Linked DNA regions of Homo sapiens. The protein of the gene in region 4 purifies or fractionates together with the protein of the main gene of each other region. This does not show direct contact. Each region holds a gene or a part of one and is shown on either strand. Other genes may lie near its edges.

The links. The genes of interacting proteins can lie anywhere in the genome.
Region 1: the proteins of SDF4 (region 4) and KIAA1671 purify together in Homo sapiens (affinity purification with mass spectrometry; 3 studies listed by BioGRID and IntAct, with this or other methods). This does not show direct contact.
Region 2: the proteins of SDF4 (region 4) and CHST11 purify together in Homo sapiens (affinity purification with mass spectrometry; 3 studies listed by BioGRID and IntAct, with this or other methods). This does not show direct contact.
Region 3: the proteins of SDF4 (region 4) and GPRIN1 purify together in Homo sapiens (affinity purification with mass spectrometry; 3 studies listed by BioGRID and IntAct, with this or other methods). This does not show direct contact.

Annotation. Positions count from the first base shown.
Region 1 is NC_000022.11:25,039,716-25,043,215, reverse strand, and holds part of KIAA1671 (uncharacterized protein KIAA1671), read right to left. Parts: coding exon 1,691-3,500; intron 1-1,690.
Region 2 is NC_000012.12:104,599,948-104,603,447, reverse strand, and holds part of CHST11 (carbohydrate sulfotransferase 11), read right to left. Parts: intron 1,543-3,500; coding exon 1,457-1,542; intron 1-1,456.
Region 3 is NC_000005.10:176,595,302-176,597,729, forward strand, and holds the end of GPRIN1 (G protein-regulated inducer of neurite outgrowth 1), read right to left. Parts: coding exon 1,507-2,428; 3' UTR 501-1,506; downstream 1-500. Other genes in the region: CDHR2 (cadherin-related family member 2 precursor), read left to right, coding at 231-371. UniProt on the Homo sapiens protein: May be involved in neurite outgrowth.
Region 4 is NC_000001.11:1,221,667-1,227,213, reverse strand, and holds part of SDF4 (45 kDa calcium-binding protein isoform 2 precursor), read left to right. Parts: intron 1-3,245; coding exon 3,246-3,382; intron 3,383-3,856; coding exon 3,857-3,970; intron 3,971-5,547. UniProt on the Homo sapiens protein: May regulate calcium-dependent activities in the endoplasmic reticulum lumen or post-ER compartment. Isoform 5 may be involved in the exocytosis of zymogens by pancreatic acini.

The sequences.
Region 1 (3,500 bases), on a different chromosome or scaffold from region 4:
GTGGCTTATTTGGGTGAGGGTTTCTTCACAGCTATTCTGCTTATGTACCCCCAAAAGGGTGTGCTTGTAATTAAAGTGATCCCTTCCTCCTTTCCTCCCCACCCCCCACCCTGCCATCCATTCTTCTCTTTCTCTCTGTTCTTCACTGAACAAAGGAAGCCAGATTTTCTTTCTTCTGCTGTGCATGGTGCCAGCCAGGATGGAAAAGTCTGAATGTTCATGACCCCACAAACAGCCTCAGGCAAGGACAGAGGGATTGGAAAATACATACTCCAGGTCCCTTGACCCCTGGACATGACAACTTCAGAGGTGTTCCATGCTGCCTCCCGGGGTCCCCAGTGAGATGTGCCTCTGTGGCCAACCATGGCCCCTGTAGCACCTGCCTCACTTCTTCTCTCCCCTACTGGTTCTTCCTGGGATCACCCCCTTAAAAAGTGCTTACAGGCCGGGCGCAGTGGCTCGCGCCTGTAATCCCAGCACTTTGGGAGGTCAAGGTGGGCGGATCACGAGGTCAGGAGTTCAAGACCGGCCTGGCCAAAATAGTGAAACCCCGTCTCTACTAAAAAAAAAAAATACAAAAAATTAGCCGGGTATGATGGCGGGCTCCTGTAATCCCAGCTACTTGGGAGGCTGAGGCAGGAGAATCGCTTAAACCCAGGAGGCGAAGGTTGCAGTGAGCCAAGATCACACCATTGTATTCCAGCCCAGGTGACAGTGTGAGACTCCGTCTCAAAAAAAAAAAAAAAAAAAAACAAGGGACTGCTGGAACCCAAAACCATGGTGATCCCTCTTTTGAGGCTCACGTAAGATCACTTGTTCACTCATTCAACAAATACTTCTTGAACATTCACAGTATGTCAAGCATGATGCTGGATTCTGGGGACATAATAATGAACAGGATACAACAGGCTATTATACAGCAGGAGCACAATAAAGCTACCATTGATATCTATCATTATCGTCATTGTAGGACAGAAGTGTAAAACAGGTGGCCGGCGCGCTGCATGGGGCTAGCAGACAAGTCTTGTTTGGGCTGAACAGCATTTTTAAAAATAAGTCCTCCTCATTTCCTAATGGGAGGATTACACATAAAAATCTAGATTTTCAGATTCTCTTGATAAATGAGGTTTGCCATCTCAAGGCCAGCATTCCTGCCTGTGAAGAACCAGCTGGGCCAGGCATGGTGGCACACGCCTGTCATCCCAGCACTTTGGGAGGCCGAGGCAGGAGGATCACTTGAGCCCAGGAGTTTGAGACCAGCCTGGGCAACATGGCAAAACCCTGTCTCTACAAAAAATAAAAAATTAGCCAAGCATGGTGGCGCATGCCTGTCATCCCAGCTATTTGGGAGGCTGAGGCGGGAGGATGGCTTGAGCCCAGGAGATTATGGCTGCAGTGAGCCATGATCATGCCACTGCACTCCAGCCTGGGCAACTAAGCAAGACTCTTTGTTTCAAACAAACAAATAAACAAACAAAGAACCAGGTGGGACCAAGCAGCAGTTGTCCAGTTCAGATAGGGCATGAGCTCTCCATTTGCCACAATCCATACCCCTCCCTGGAGCCTCATACCCAGCCTGACTCCACTCATTTATGTACCCAAAGTGGGCCACACAAAATCTGAGTTTCGGCCCCCTAGACTAGATGTTTAAACCATGTTTGACAAAATTAAAAAGTGTCTCGGTACTTACCTTGTGACTGTCTCCAGTCCCTGACTCCCACCAACAGGGTCCCATTTTGGCCTCCAAATTCTCTCCAGTAAGGCTGGGCCTCCCTTTGGGCTGCTCTCGCCTCCTCTCTCTGGCTTCATGCATGATGGACAGGCCCTCTCGGATGTTGGCAGGGGGCCCCTTCTCTGAGTAGGCCCTCTTGATATCCAGCGGCACCCGTCCACAGTCACGTGGGTGGTCACCCCACTGGGCCACACTGTCCTCCTCTCCCCGCCCGGTGGATTTCCTTGGGGTCCCTTTCTTCTGGTCAGTGGGGGGCGATTTGGGTGACACCCTGACCCCACTGCCTGGATCCTCCCGACCAGAGGGCTTTGACTCAGCCAGGTAATTCTGACACTTTGCAACATGATGTTTACTGGCAAAGGCCTTTCTGTCATCCTCAGCAAACCCCGTTTTTTTCCTGGGATCCGCAGGTATAGGAGAGCCCCCTGGATACCTTTCAGAAGGAGCCGAGGGTGGCAGAGCCCAGAAGGGAGGGCTAGATTTGGTGCCCATGGCTGTCTCCAAGGTCTCTGCCAGCTGCTTGCCTAAGCCAGGAGTGAAACTGTGATTTATTTCGGCAGAACTGGCCGGTTTCCAGAGACCCCCGGTATCGGGCATCTCCTTCAGGCTCCTCCTTCTCTGCTCCACCCCGCCCAGCTGAACAGGCCTCTCCCGAGGCAACGTACTGGGCTCCACGGTGGGACTCCTCCTCTCCTGAGCCTCCCCAGGGACTTTCAGCGACAGCTCCTGGTACTCTGCCATCAGGGCGTCAATGTCAAGAACGCTGGATCTGTAGCCATCTCTGATTTTACCTGGGAACGTGTCACTGATCACATCAGTCTTCCTTCTCACAGGAAGATCTTTTGGACGACTCCTCAGAGTCGGGGTGGTTTGGGGAGCTCCGCCGCTGGGGGACATCTTGTTCGCACTTTCCTTCCAATTGCTTTGAGGACGAGGGCCATCTTCTGATCCCCGATGACTCCATAAGGCATCCACATCAATGATTCTTCCATTGAAAGGGTCCAGACTCCAGGCCCCAAGAGATGATGGACGGTCTGTTGGCTTCAGAGTTTTTAAAATGCTTGCATTTTCATGCTCTCGTCCCTTCATCCAGTTTTTACTGCCTGCCATCTCCAATGCCTCTTCATGACCAAGAGAAACCAAAGTGGATGTTAAAGAATGAGGAGACGAGGGTGGAGTGATTTTTCTAGAATGTTCCAGCAAGCTTTCAGCTCCTGACAGAACCACACCCTTTGCCTTTTGAGTATTGGGAATCTGATAGGTGACTGCAAAAAATGTCGCCTTGGGTTCCACAGGTGACCCTTGCTTCACTGCTGGGGAAGTCTGGTCCCGTGAAGCACCTGGGTTCACCTCCTGGGTCTCCACCCTGTAGTGGGATAGTTGAGGTTTTCTTAAGGCACTGGCTGTGGGGCTCACATAATCTGTTCGTCTGTGCCCCACATGTGGAGAGTCCTCTGGGACAAGAGAACTGAATGTATCAAATTTCACGTTGGGGGGTAAAGTCCGCCGCCGCCATCTGTCCATTCTCTGGTCCATGGCGCCGGCTTTCCGCATTCTGACTGCAGGCTGTGGCACCTGGGCCGGCCCTGGATCACCCTCCCTGGCGGCTACAATGAAGGGCCCTTTCTGCACAGCAAATGCATCTGGATGTGTTCGTGCTTGGGAGTCAGAAGGCCCATTCGTAGCCCTGGAAAGAGGATCGAGGGGGCATCCCTGGGGTGGGCCCCTTGCTCCCACTCCTGGCTTGCTTCTGGCCCCCTCTGGCCCC
Region 2 (3,500 bases), on a different chromosome or scaffold from region 4:
ATGGACCTTCCATCCACAGGGGCGGTGACTTCAGATATAGCTTTTCCCATGACACCATATGTTACCCATAAAATTTGCAGCAGTGTTTCAGTAGTTTTGTTTTGAAGGAGAAAATCATCTGAGAACAGAGGATATCAACAAAAAGAAGGGAATGGTTTGCATCTGAGGAGCCTGTGTTGTTTTTGACACGGGTTACCAGAAATCCTATCCTTTGTTGAAGCACAGTTCTGCCTCTTCCTTAGGACAGGGTGTGTGTGGACAGGCTGGGAGACCTGCCTATAATATGGAGATTTTTTGGGCACCAAAGGGAACCCAACTATCAAATTCCCCACTGAGTCACCACCGAACCCAGTACAGGAAGCCTCAGGCAATACTGACTTGGCAATTAATGGGCTAATCTGGCCAAGTCACACCTCAAGACAGGGCATGAGTTAACCTAATTAGGCCACCCATGATGCATAAATTCAGGAGTCCATTTTTCCAGAAGGGAGTGCAGGTGAGAGATTGGGAAGGGGGGTAGGGGGCATCAGATAGTTCTCAAGTGCATCCCTTTACAAGAGTTCTAAAAATTCGACACCTTTGAGGCCCGTGCATTATCTTCCTCCACCAGGTACCTTGGTCCAAAGAAGTATTAAATTTAGTCAGAGACTGTAGCCAAAGCAGTACATTTTTCCCTCTTTCTCTACGGCTATCGAAGGTCCACTGATGCTGCTGCTAGTTGTTCACTTACCAGTTCTGGGCATCAAGTGCTAATTAATGTTCCTACAAAAGGATCAGCCCCAGAGTCTCCACATCAAGACCCACACACACCACTGAGGCTGTTGCCATGGCAACCAGGCCTCCTAACTTTGCACTAGCTTTCCACAGAAGACACTTTTCCTTGGTTGGAGCTTTTCTTTTGCTCAAAGAGGAGCTCTTTTCATAATTGATGGCACAGAGGCCACGTTTGCTGCCTCATTAAACTAACGAGTTAGATTTACTGAGGCAGTCACTTAGCAAAAGGTCCCCGCTCGCAAGGGAGTTTGCCAAACTGGCACAGTGAGGTGGGGCATCACTGGGCTTTAATATGTGGGATGTGGGAATGGGTGTCAAGTGTACCCATGTGCAACTCTTCCTTTGGGGATACCAAAGGGAAGACTGCACAGCTTCGGTGGACCTTTAATTCCCGAGTCCCATTGCTCGAACTTGAGACTGTTAATCTCAGGAGTTCAAACCCTGGGCAGGTCTGAATGCTTAGCACTAAACCTAGGCATTTCTCTAATTCTAAACATCCCCTGCTAGATTTTTCAGAGATGCTACATAGAAAAAGGGTGACGGAGAAAGCAACCACTGAAGGTAAAATGCCAGGCTGTGAAAGGAAGTTTTAAATCCCCCAAAGACCACAATTTTAGAGTTTTTAGTATCCATACCTACAAAAAAAAAAAATTCACATGCTGACAGAGTGCTTGAAGCTTACCTGGATTGGGTTGTAGAGTTCCTGCAGGGGGCTTCGGGACCCCTTCCGGCAGCAGATGTCCACACCAAAGGGATTCCTCCGCATGACTGAGGAAAGAAAGTGAAGGCTCATCAGAAATGAGCAACAAAGATTTGTTGTCTGTCAAAGAAAAAGGCACAGAGTAGGGAAGAAGAAACAGGCAGGAAAGAAAGAGAAAACCAGCTTCTAGCAAAGGAAGATTTCCACACTGTCCCTTCTCCAACAGCACAGCTGCTGTCTGTCTTCCCAACATTCAGGCATCTCCACACCCAGAAGGATCTAGATCATGCTAAAAAGTCTCCCCAGCAAGTGTTTTAAGAAAACAGGACAGGCATCTAAAGCTCATTGAAATGAAACCACTTACAAAAGATGGCGTAATGGCTGCTTCAAGACAGCAAGTTCTACCCAGCAGCAGGCTTGGTAACACATTTTAAGATTCCGCAGACTTCTCCAGCAACAGTCAATGACCTTTCATTCCTTGTCCCTGAAAGCTGGGCTTCTGAGAATGGGCAGGTCCTTCCCCAGGAGGCTCCTCCCACTGGACAGGTCAGAGGCCCAGCCTCCCCAAAACCTCTCCTAAATTATGTTACTTTTAGTGAAAATATCAGCATGAAGCAGAAAAGACAAGAGTTTATGATTCCAGACAGAGATGGTACTTACAATTAATAAAAGAGGGGGAATAAGTGAACTCCTCAAACCCCACCAACATTGAAGCCACCAAGAGCTCTTTTTAAATGGCAATGAATTCTTTCTTTTTCATTTTTCTTGTTCACTCTGTGCAGCCCCTCATGCATTATGTAACGCATAGTCATGGGCTTGATCATTATTTGTTGGAGGGAGGAGGAAGGAGGAAGGGAGGGATGAAATTGGGAGAGAGGGAAGGAAGGAAGGAAAAAAGGAAGGTAGGAGGGAAGGAAAGAGAGCAGTAGAGAGGGAGAGAAGGAAGGAGGGAAGGAGGAAAGGAGAAGGAAAGGGAGGGGAGCAAGCGAAGGAAGGAAGGGAAGGGAAGAAGGAGAGAGGAAAAGAGGGAGGAAAGGAAGGAGGAAAGGAAAAAAGGAAGCCGAGAAGGAGGAAGGAGGGAAGAAGGGAGGGAAGGAAGAAAGGAAAGAAGGAGAGAGGGAAAAAAGAGAGATGGGGGAAGAATAAATGGGGCTTTCTTCTCAAGTACGAGGCAGTTTTCTTATGGTTTGAGGTGCAACAGTGGCATGAGTGGAACAAGGAAAACTAGATCCTTTCATGAGCCTAAAGAATTCACCTGCTCCACAGAGGCAATGAATGGACAGCAGGACATTCCCTGGAACAGATAGCCTGGGTTTCAATACTGGCTCTACCACTACCAGCTGTGTGACCTTAAGGAAACTACCTAACCTCTCTGTGTCTCTGCTTCTTTGTCTGTAAAATGGGAATGACAGGGGCATCTAACTTCCTGGGTTGGATGTGAAGATTAAATGAGTAACTACTATGTGCAGAATGCTTAAAACTGTGCCTGGCCAAAAGCCACAGTTTAAAAGTGTTGGTGACAAATTTCAGAAGCTATTTTAGATCCCCCTGGGAGGAAGGCGGGAACTTCTCTATTTGTGGCTATCAAGGGGACTGATGAGGAGTGACCAGACCTCAAGCAGGGTGCAGCTCAAATGACTGGGAGGGCTGGCTGCAGGGGGTTAGCCCAGGGACCTCTGCTTAGAAGTCAATCTGAGGTCAGGAAAGGGAGGAGAGTCATCCAAAAGCAGCTGATGACATCTGGAAGGTCTCCGGAGGAAAAACTACTGCTCAGGTGAGCCTCCGTTGACTTGTCACTTTGAGCCACGTGGAAACTCTGAAAGTCAATCATCAATGCCCAGAAACAAGATGCCATGTTTTCTCTTTCCTTTTCCTTGACTTCCTAGGGCAGGGGTCAGCAAAATTTTCTGTAAGGGGCCAAACAGTATTTAGGCTTTGCACCCTGCAGTCTCTGTCATAACTCTTCCGCAGGGCCACTGTGGTGTGAAATCCTCCCCAAACGATACAGAAATGAATGGGTGTGGCT
Region 3 (2,428 bases), on a different chromosome or scaffold from region 4:
GGCAAGAGTGAATCCCCCAGGCCACACCCTCCCCCTCCCCTAATCTGCATCACCATTAGCCAGGGCCACCTCTGGGACACAGCCTGGACCAGAGGCCCCAGGAGGGGCAGGGTGGGACCCCTGCCAAGGAACCACTGGTCGTGAGCTTGAAGCCCATCCACTCCCCTAGGGCCTGGGGCACTCGCCCCACCTTGCCTTGCCCTTCACACCTCCTCTCCCTCTCCCTGCAGGAGCACAGGCCACCACACACACCACCAGAGCCAGATCCAGAGCCCCTGAGCGTGGTCCTGTTAGGACGGCAGGCAGGCGCAAGTGGACAGCTGGAGGGGCCATCCTACACCAACGCTGGCCTGGACACCACGGACCTGTGACAGGGGCCCCCACTCTTCTGGACCCCTTGAAGAGGCCCTACCACACCCTAACTGCACCTGTCTCCCTGGAGATGAAAATATATGACGCTGCCCTGCCTCCTGCTTTTGGCCAATCACGGCAGACAGGGGTTGGGGAAATATTTTATTACCAATGTATACTGTGACAGTTTGTAGCCAAAAACTGCGGCTGGAGGGGTGGGGACGGGACACTGAGTGGTCACAAGGGACTTGGGCTCACAGCACAGGGGGGACAAGGGGCTGGAGAGGGTGGCCTTTAAAAGACAACTGTGGTTATAGAATGAGCTCTCTGTCCTGTCCCCAATACCCAAGAACACCGGTCACCCAGGATGCCAGGGCCCAAGAGCTTCTGTGAGCCCAGCTGTGACCTCCAGACCTTCCTGAGACCCTCTGGCCTTTCTGTGACTCTCTCTCAGCTGAGCCCCCAGGGTACTTCCTGTAGCTGTCTTTGGCCTCTCTGGGAATCTCAAACCTGTGACTCAGTGGGAGAGGGGATGGGGCTGGAACCAGGCGGGTGGGAGATAGGAACTGGGGAAGGACCACCAACAGCATGCAAGAGACGCCCCGGCCACGGGGCCAGCCACTGCGTGGAGACGCTCACACTCGTTCTACCTCACGTGCTGCCCGAGACCTCACATTCAGAGACGTGCCCACTCGCGGGTCTCACACACCGATCCTCACCCACTTGAAGCTTCTGCCACTCAGACTTGTATGCAGTCTCTCCCTGTTCTGGGGATCTGGCCCCACCGGAGACCACAACGCACCAGTCTAGACATCTCAGGAGCCTGCCCCAGCTCTCAGGGGGTGGGAGGTGAGGGTGCTGAGCAGGCCCCCGTGGTCGCCCAGTGTGACCGGGAGTAGAGCTGAGGGCTGTGAGGGGACAGTGGGGCGTCAGGGCTGGCCGGGTTCGTGGCCTCGTGGCCACGAGGGAGCTTGGTAGAAGGGGTTCTTCTGTATTTGTGATGGGAGGGGCTGGAAAGACGGGGACGCAACAGCCCTAGAGGCTGCACAACCCCTCGGAGGCCTGTGGCACGCAGAGGGGACCCCTTCTAGGGGCCTGTGATCAAGAAGGGAGCCTGAGAAGGTCGGAAACTCGGGCGTACAAAATGGGGGCAGATCACTCGGCCGTGGGTCCCGCCCGCGAGCAGCACCGCGGCCGGCGCACACTCTGCAGCAGCGCGCGGAACAGGCCGGGCGGACGCTTGGCGGCGCCATCTGGGGGCGCGGTGCGCACCGAGCCCGAACGGCCGGGGCCGGCACGGGCGGCGGGCGGCGGCGCGGGCGCCCCTTGGCGGCCGTGCTCCTCGATCTGTCGCTCCAGATGCTTCTGGATGGCCATGCCCAGCACCTCCACCTCCATGGCGGCGCCGTATACCTCCCACGTCATGCCCTTCTCGTCCCAGCTCACGTCTCGCACGGGCTCAGCCGGCTCCGGGGGCGCTACAGCGGCCGCCAGCGCTGAGCCGGGCCGCACCCGCACTTCGGGGAAGGCGGGCGGCGCGGCGGCTTGAGGTGTCATGGGCCCAGTGGCCACGGAGCGCGTCTCGGCGGCGCCCAGCGACACCTGCAGGCCCGCATCTCGGCGCGAGGGCGGGCTGGGCGCGCGCGGCGCCGCCTGGAAGCTGAAGGCCGAGCCCCCAGCGCCGTCCTGCGGAGACATGGGGCTCACGGCCACTGAGACGCAGGCCTGCGCGCCCGCCTGAGTGCCCGCGTCCTCGCGCGGCGGCGGCGGGGCGCTCGCCTCCCACGACGGCGCCTTGGTGAAGTTGTCGCGAGTCCGCGGCCCCGGCGGGGGCGCTGCGGCCTCTGGGCAGGGGCTTCTCTCGGCCCCAGCGGCTTCCAGGTCTTTCTGGCCGAGACTGGAGGCCTCGGTGCTGGACACGGGCTCGGCCTTCGGCTCCACGCGGCCTTCACTGCCCCTGGCACCCTCGGGAGACCGGGCTGAGCCGAGGGCTTTGCGGTCTAACTGCCTGGAGGAGGAGGACGGCTTGGTCTTCTCCAGACTCAGGGGGACCACCTTCCCCAAGGATGGGGACTCC
Region 4 (5,547 bases):
CTGGGGTGCAGGAGCAGGTAGGAAAGGTGTGAGGACTGGTCTGGCTGTGCCACGGCCCTTGGGCTGAGGGCCAGGCGGGAGGGCCCTGAGGATCCAGGCTTTCGGGCGGAGCACAGGTGAGCTGGTGGGACGGAGGCACGGTGCCAGCTGGAGGACCTGGGCACCAGGTGTGGTGTCCCCTTGCACCTCTCCTCAGATGGTACGGTTCGGGGGTCCTTGCGTGGCCTGAGTTCACTTGGTGGTGAGCTGACCAACCCACGAAGAGGCTGCTGGTGCCCCTGGGGCCTGTCAGGTTCACCACCCCTGAGCTCACGAAGGCCTGGCTCGCGGCATCACAGGGGAAGGGTCCCCGTCCCTGCTCAGCCGGTGCTGGGGGTGGGCTGCACGCCTGGGCGAGGGGAGTTGAGGCTTCTGCTCGGTGCGTCTCCAGCTGGACCGGGGTTTCTTTTTGGTGCCTGTAACGAAACCCCAAGCTGTCTCGTTTGAGGAGGTGGGCATGGGGAGTGGGAAGTAACAGCAGGTCTCCGGGTCTCCCTGACTCCTGCGCCGAGCGGCGACAGCGGCCGCTGTGGGTGTTTAGACTTCCCTTCCCACACGCGGGTCCCTTCTCGCCCTTCTCCTGCGTAGGGCCCCGTCCCTCCAGGACCCACGTTCACTCAGCTGTCCTGTCTCCTCTGTCTCCTCTGGGCTGGAACGGTGTCTCAGACTCTCCCGTTTTTGTGAGGACGTAACAGTTCTGAGAAGGGCTGGGTAGGAGGTTTTAGGCTGTCCCTCAGTTTGGGCTTGTGGGATGTGTTTTCTCCTGACCGTACAGGGTTGAGGGTTTCTGGAAAGAGCCCCCAGAGGGGAGGTGCCATGTTTCCTCCTGACCGTACAGGGTTGAGGGTTTCTGGAAAGAGCATCCAGAGGGGAGGTGCCCTGTCCTAGGGGCTTTTGAGCTTCACTTCCTTCCCGCTTCCCTGCACCACGAGATGCTCCAGGCTTTCCTTCCCGCTTCCTGGCACGGTGAGATGCTCTGGGCTCGCCTCCGTGCCACCTGCCCCAGTGCAATAGCTGCCGCCTTTCCAGGAAGCCCTGTCTCCCGTGGCTGGAGCTGGAAGCCAGGGTCTGGGCACTGGGCGTCTTGCCCTTGTTCTCTCAGGAGCCAGAACTTGATAACATGCGTGTGTGCACCAGCCCAGTCACATCTGTGTTCTGCCAGCCCTGTTCACGTGTGTGTGCTGTGTACACGTGGGTACCGGCCTGTGCACTTGCGTGTGTGCGTGCCAGCTCCATGTACGTGCACCGCCCTGCAGCCGTGTCTTCAGGCACCTGAGTTTGGATGAGTGACTCCTTGCCGACATCTTGACTGGAATCCTGCGCCATGTGGTTTCTTTCCACCTTTTTGCTTTTTGCTCTGCCTCGTGTGTGTCTGTGTCTGTGGAGTGTGTAGAGCGTGTGGAGTGTGTGGCCCGTGTCTGTGGCATGTGGAGTGTGTGGCCCGTGTCTGTGGCGTGTGGAGCGTGTGGCCTGTGTCTGTGGCGCGTGTGGAGCGTGACCGGAGCATTCGAGGATGCACGTGTCCACGTGAGACCCACCAGGTGCCCCACCTGCCACATGGCCACCCGGGTGGCCCCGTCCCCAGCCGGTGTGTTTTGGGGACTGTGGAGCTGAGGGTGCCTCCCAGGCCCGTCCACCTCTGGGCTGCTGCGGCTGCTGAGGGAGGGGCGCGTGTGAGCGGCAGCCTGGCCTTCTTCCATGAGGATCTCTGCCCAGTGCTTCTGAGCCGTGCCTGCGGTGTGTGCACCCTCGAAGCTTGCCTGGCCCAGGTCCCAGAGGCCACACCTGCCTGACGAGGGCCTGCTTGCCACCTCATAACGTGGCCGCGGCTGCCCCTGAGCGGAGCATAGAGGCAAGGGGCCAGGGCACCCTACTCTCGGGGATGCCTCCGGCAAACGCACCAGCCGGGGTCTCAAGACCTCGCACCTCTGGAAGCCCTGCCTCCCAGTGCTGTTGCCCTGGGGGTTAAGTTTCCAACAGGTGAGCTCAGGACACGGGCGGCTGCAGCAGGGGTAGGAGCCTGTGGCTTCCACAAAGACATAATGGTGAAGCCGAGCTCTGAAGCTGGGACGGGAGTGACCTGTCCTGGGGCCTGTGGCCTCCTGACCTGGCCTGCGCTGGCCCCGTGTCCCCAGTCTGTGTCCCTATCCCCCAAGTCTGTGGTCTCTTCCATCCTTGCACACAATGTTAAGTCCCCACACGGTCTTCTTCCTAAATCTCACAACTTAAATTTATATGAAGGATTTTGTTTTGTCTTGTTTTGAGTCAGGGTCTCGGTATGCCGCCCAGGCTGGAGTGCAGTGGTGTGATCACAGTTCACTGCAACCTTCGCATTCCAGGTTCGGGAGGCCTCCCACCTCAGCCTCTTGAGTAGCTGAAACCACAGGTGCACGCCACCGCGCCTGGCGAATTTTCGTAATTGTTTTTGTAGAGGTGGGGTCTCCCTATGTTGCCCAAGCTGGTCTTGAACTTCTGGGCTTAAGTGATCCACCTGTCTTAGCCTCCCAAAGGGCTGGGATTATAGGTGTGGCCACTGCGTCCTGCCTATATGAAGGTTTTTGTGTAGCCATACCTGAAGCATCGAAAATAAAACATGGGCCGGGCCCAGTGGCCACACCTGTAATCCTAGCACGTTGGGAGGCTGAGGTGGGTGGATCATTTGAGGTCAGGAGTTTGAGACTAGCCTGCCCAACATGGTGAAACCGTATTTCTGTTAAAAATACAAAAATTAGCCAGGCGTGGTGGTGCACCCCTGTAATCCCAGCTACTCGGGAGGCTGAGGCAGTAGAATCGCTTGAACCCGGGAGGCGGAGGTTGCAGTGAGCAAAGATTGCGCCACCACACTCCAGCCTGGGTGACAGAGTGAGACTCCATCTCAAAAAATAAAATAAAACGTGAAGAGTGTGACTTTTGGAAGCTGTGGTTGGAGAGTGGGGTCTGGTGGTGATTCTGTGTGACAGAGGGGGAGGGTCCATGTGTTTCCCCGGGGAGGGGACCGTGGCATCCACCTTCCCCAGTGTCTCTGGCGTGGCCCGGCACCCCACAAGCCCCACGTCCCGGACGCTTTTCGCGTTGCCTGGTGGAGCCTGTCGCTGTTGGTGGCAGGTTCACGCAGCCATGGAGTCCTGGGCCGGCGGCATCCGTCTGGCTGTTCGGGGTCCTGGGGGCCCAGTCTGACGGCCACCTGCCCATTTGCTGTCTTGCAGGGTGGATGTGAACACTGACCGGAAGATCAGTGCCAAGGAGATGCAGCGCTGGATCATGGAGAAGACGGCCGAGCACTTCCAGGAGGCCATGGAGGAGAGCAAGACACACTTCCGCGCCGTGGACCCTGACGGGGACGGTACTGTGGCTGGGCCGGGGTGGGTGGGGCGGTGGGCGGGGCGGGCAGGGCCATGGGCCTTGCCTGGTGCCTGGAGGGCAGACAGGCCCTGTCTGAGGGACGGGCGGTGGGGAAGTGTCAGCCGGAGACCCCGAGGTGTGGTGGGGTGCACGGAAGCTGGGTTCATGATGCCAGAATCCTGGTGACAGAGGTGTGTGTGCCAAGCACTGGGCGTGGCCCATGGAGGGCGCCTCTTATGTCTTCGGGGCCTTCATCTGGTGGTGTCTATGCCTCTTGGTGGCCCCGAGGCACAGACGTTGCCGGCTGGCCTCACAGGTGAGGAAACGGGTGTGGGGTGCTGGCCGGGGCCCTGGGGCTCCAGACGCTGGCATCCTGCCGCTTCCAGCCTGGGCAGCAGAGCAAGACCCCATCTCAGTTGAGAAGGAAGTTCAGCTCAGTATCAGAGGCCCTGACAGGTGTGATCTGCTCTTCCAGGTCACGTGTCTTGGGACGAGTATAAGGTGAAGTTTTTGGCGAGTAAAGGCCATAGCGAGAAGGAGGTTGCCGACGCCATCAGGCTCAACGAGGAACTCAAAGTGGATGAGGAAAGTGAGTGCTCAGCCAGGCTCCCGCCACCGGTCTCAGGCATCCTGTGTGTGCGCGCGTGTGTTGTGTGTACATGAGTGTGCCGTGTGTGTCGTGTATGAGTGTGCCGTGCGTGTGCTCGTGAGTACGTGTGTGCGTGCCGTGTGTACGAGTGTGCTGTGCGCGTGCTCGTGAGTACGTGTGTGCATGTTGTGTGTACGTGTGCTGTGTGTGTGCTCGTGAGTACATGTGTATGCGTGTCGTGTGTACGAGTGCACTGTGCATGTGCTTGTACGTGTGTGCGTGTCGTGTGTACGAGTGCGCTGTGCGTGTGCTTGTGAGTACATCCAGGTAGCTGTTCATGTAGGCTCGTGAGTACATGCAGGTGAGTGCGCCCTCACACCCGCTGTGTGCACACGTGTTCGTCTTAACAGCATGGCCCAACCTGGTTGGTGGTGGCTGTCAGGAGGGAAGTGGGTGAAGCCGTTGCTGACCTAGGCGCCGCCCAGGAGTCCGGTGGGGAGCGTGTGAGCTGTGCCTGGGCAGCTTTCAGCTCTGCTGGTCACGGCACCTTCACGGCCGTTACTCAGTTAGGTCCTGCAGAGAATCTGAGGCTGTGAGTCTGGGTTGGGGCCTGCCCCGTACTCTGAAGGCCACGTGAGGCAGAGTTTCCTGGGGAGAGGGCACAGCCTGTGCCTGAGGGCCTGGCCCTGAGGCCTGGGTCTGCTGGAGACATCTGTGTGGCCGTCAGGTGGTCACCAGAGAGCGGTCAGGTCCCAGGGAGAGGCTCTTCCTTGGGTCTGGGGTGTGGCCGTTGGCCAGCAGGGCAGCCTCAGCCCTGGGCGGGTCCAAGCTGGTGCCTCTGCGTGAAGAGGGTGGGGCCGGGTGGGGCCCGGCACCCGGGCTAAGGCCAGGTGAGGGGAGAGCCGGGCCACCCTGCACGGGGCCAGGTCTGGGAGAGCCGTCCAGGCAGAAGCCCCTGCTGGCCCAGTTGTGAGGCACAGCTGAGCGGGTACCGTGGCGTTGCTGCCACCCTGGGGCTCCGTGTGCCCTTCCCGGTCATGCCCGTGGTCTGGTTTGGGGCTTTGAGGAGAACGTGCAGAGTCGCCTGCTCCGTCGCTGCCCGGCATCCTGGGGTGGGTTCTCTGCTGCCCTGCAGGGCGCCCGTGTCGCCCACGGGACTGGTCACGTGATACGGGGCTGCTCCTGGCAGGCTGGGTGTATCTTACACCTTTATTTTTTGTGCCTGCTTAACTTATCAGTAACACACATTTCCTCACCAGAGTCTCAAGGCAAACCACCTCTTCTTTCTTTTTTCATGAGACGGTCTCACTCTGCTACCCAGCCTGCAGTGCAGTGGTGCAGTCTCGGCTCCCTGCAGCTGTACCTTCCAGGGCTCAGGCGATCCTCCTACCTCAGAAGCTGGGACCACAGGCACCATCACCGCGCCTGGCTAATTTTTGTATTTTTTGTACGGATAGATTCTGCCGTGTTGGCCGGGTTGGTCTCAAACTCTTGGACTTAAGTCATCCGCCTACTGCAGTCTCCCAAAGTGCTGGGATTATAGGCGTGAGCCACTGCGCCTAGTCTTAGCCTCTTTC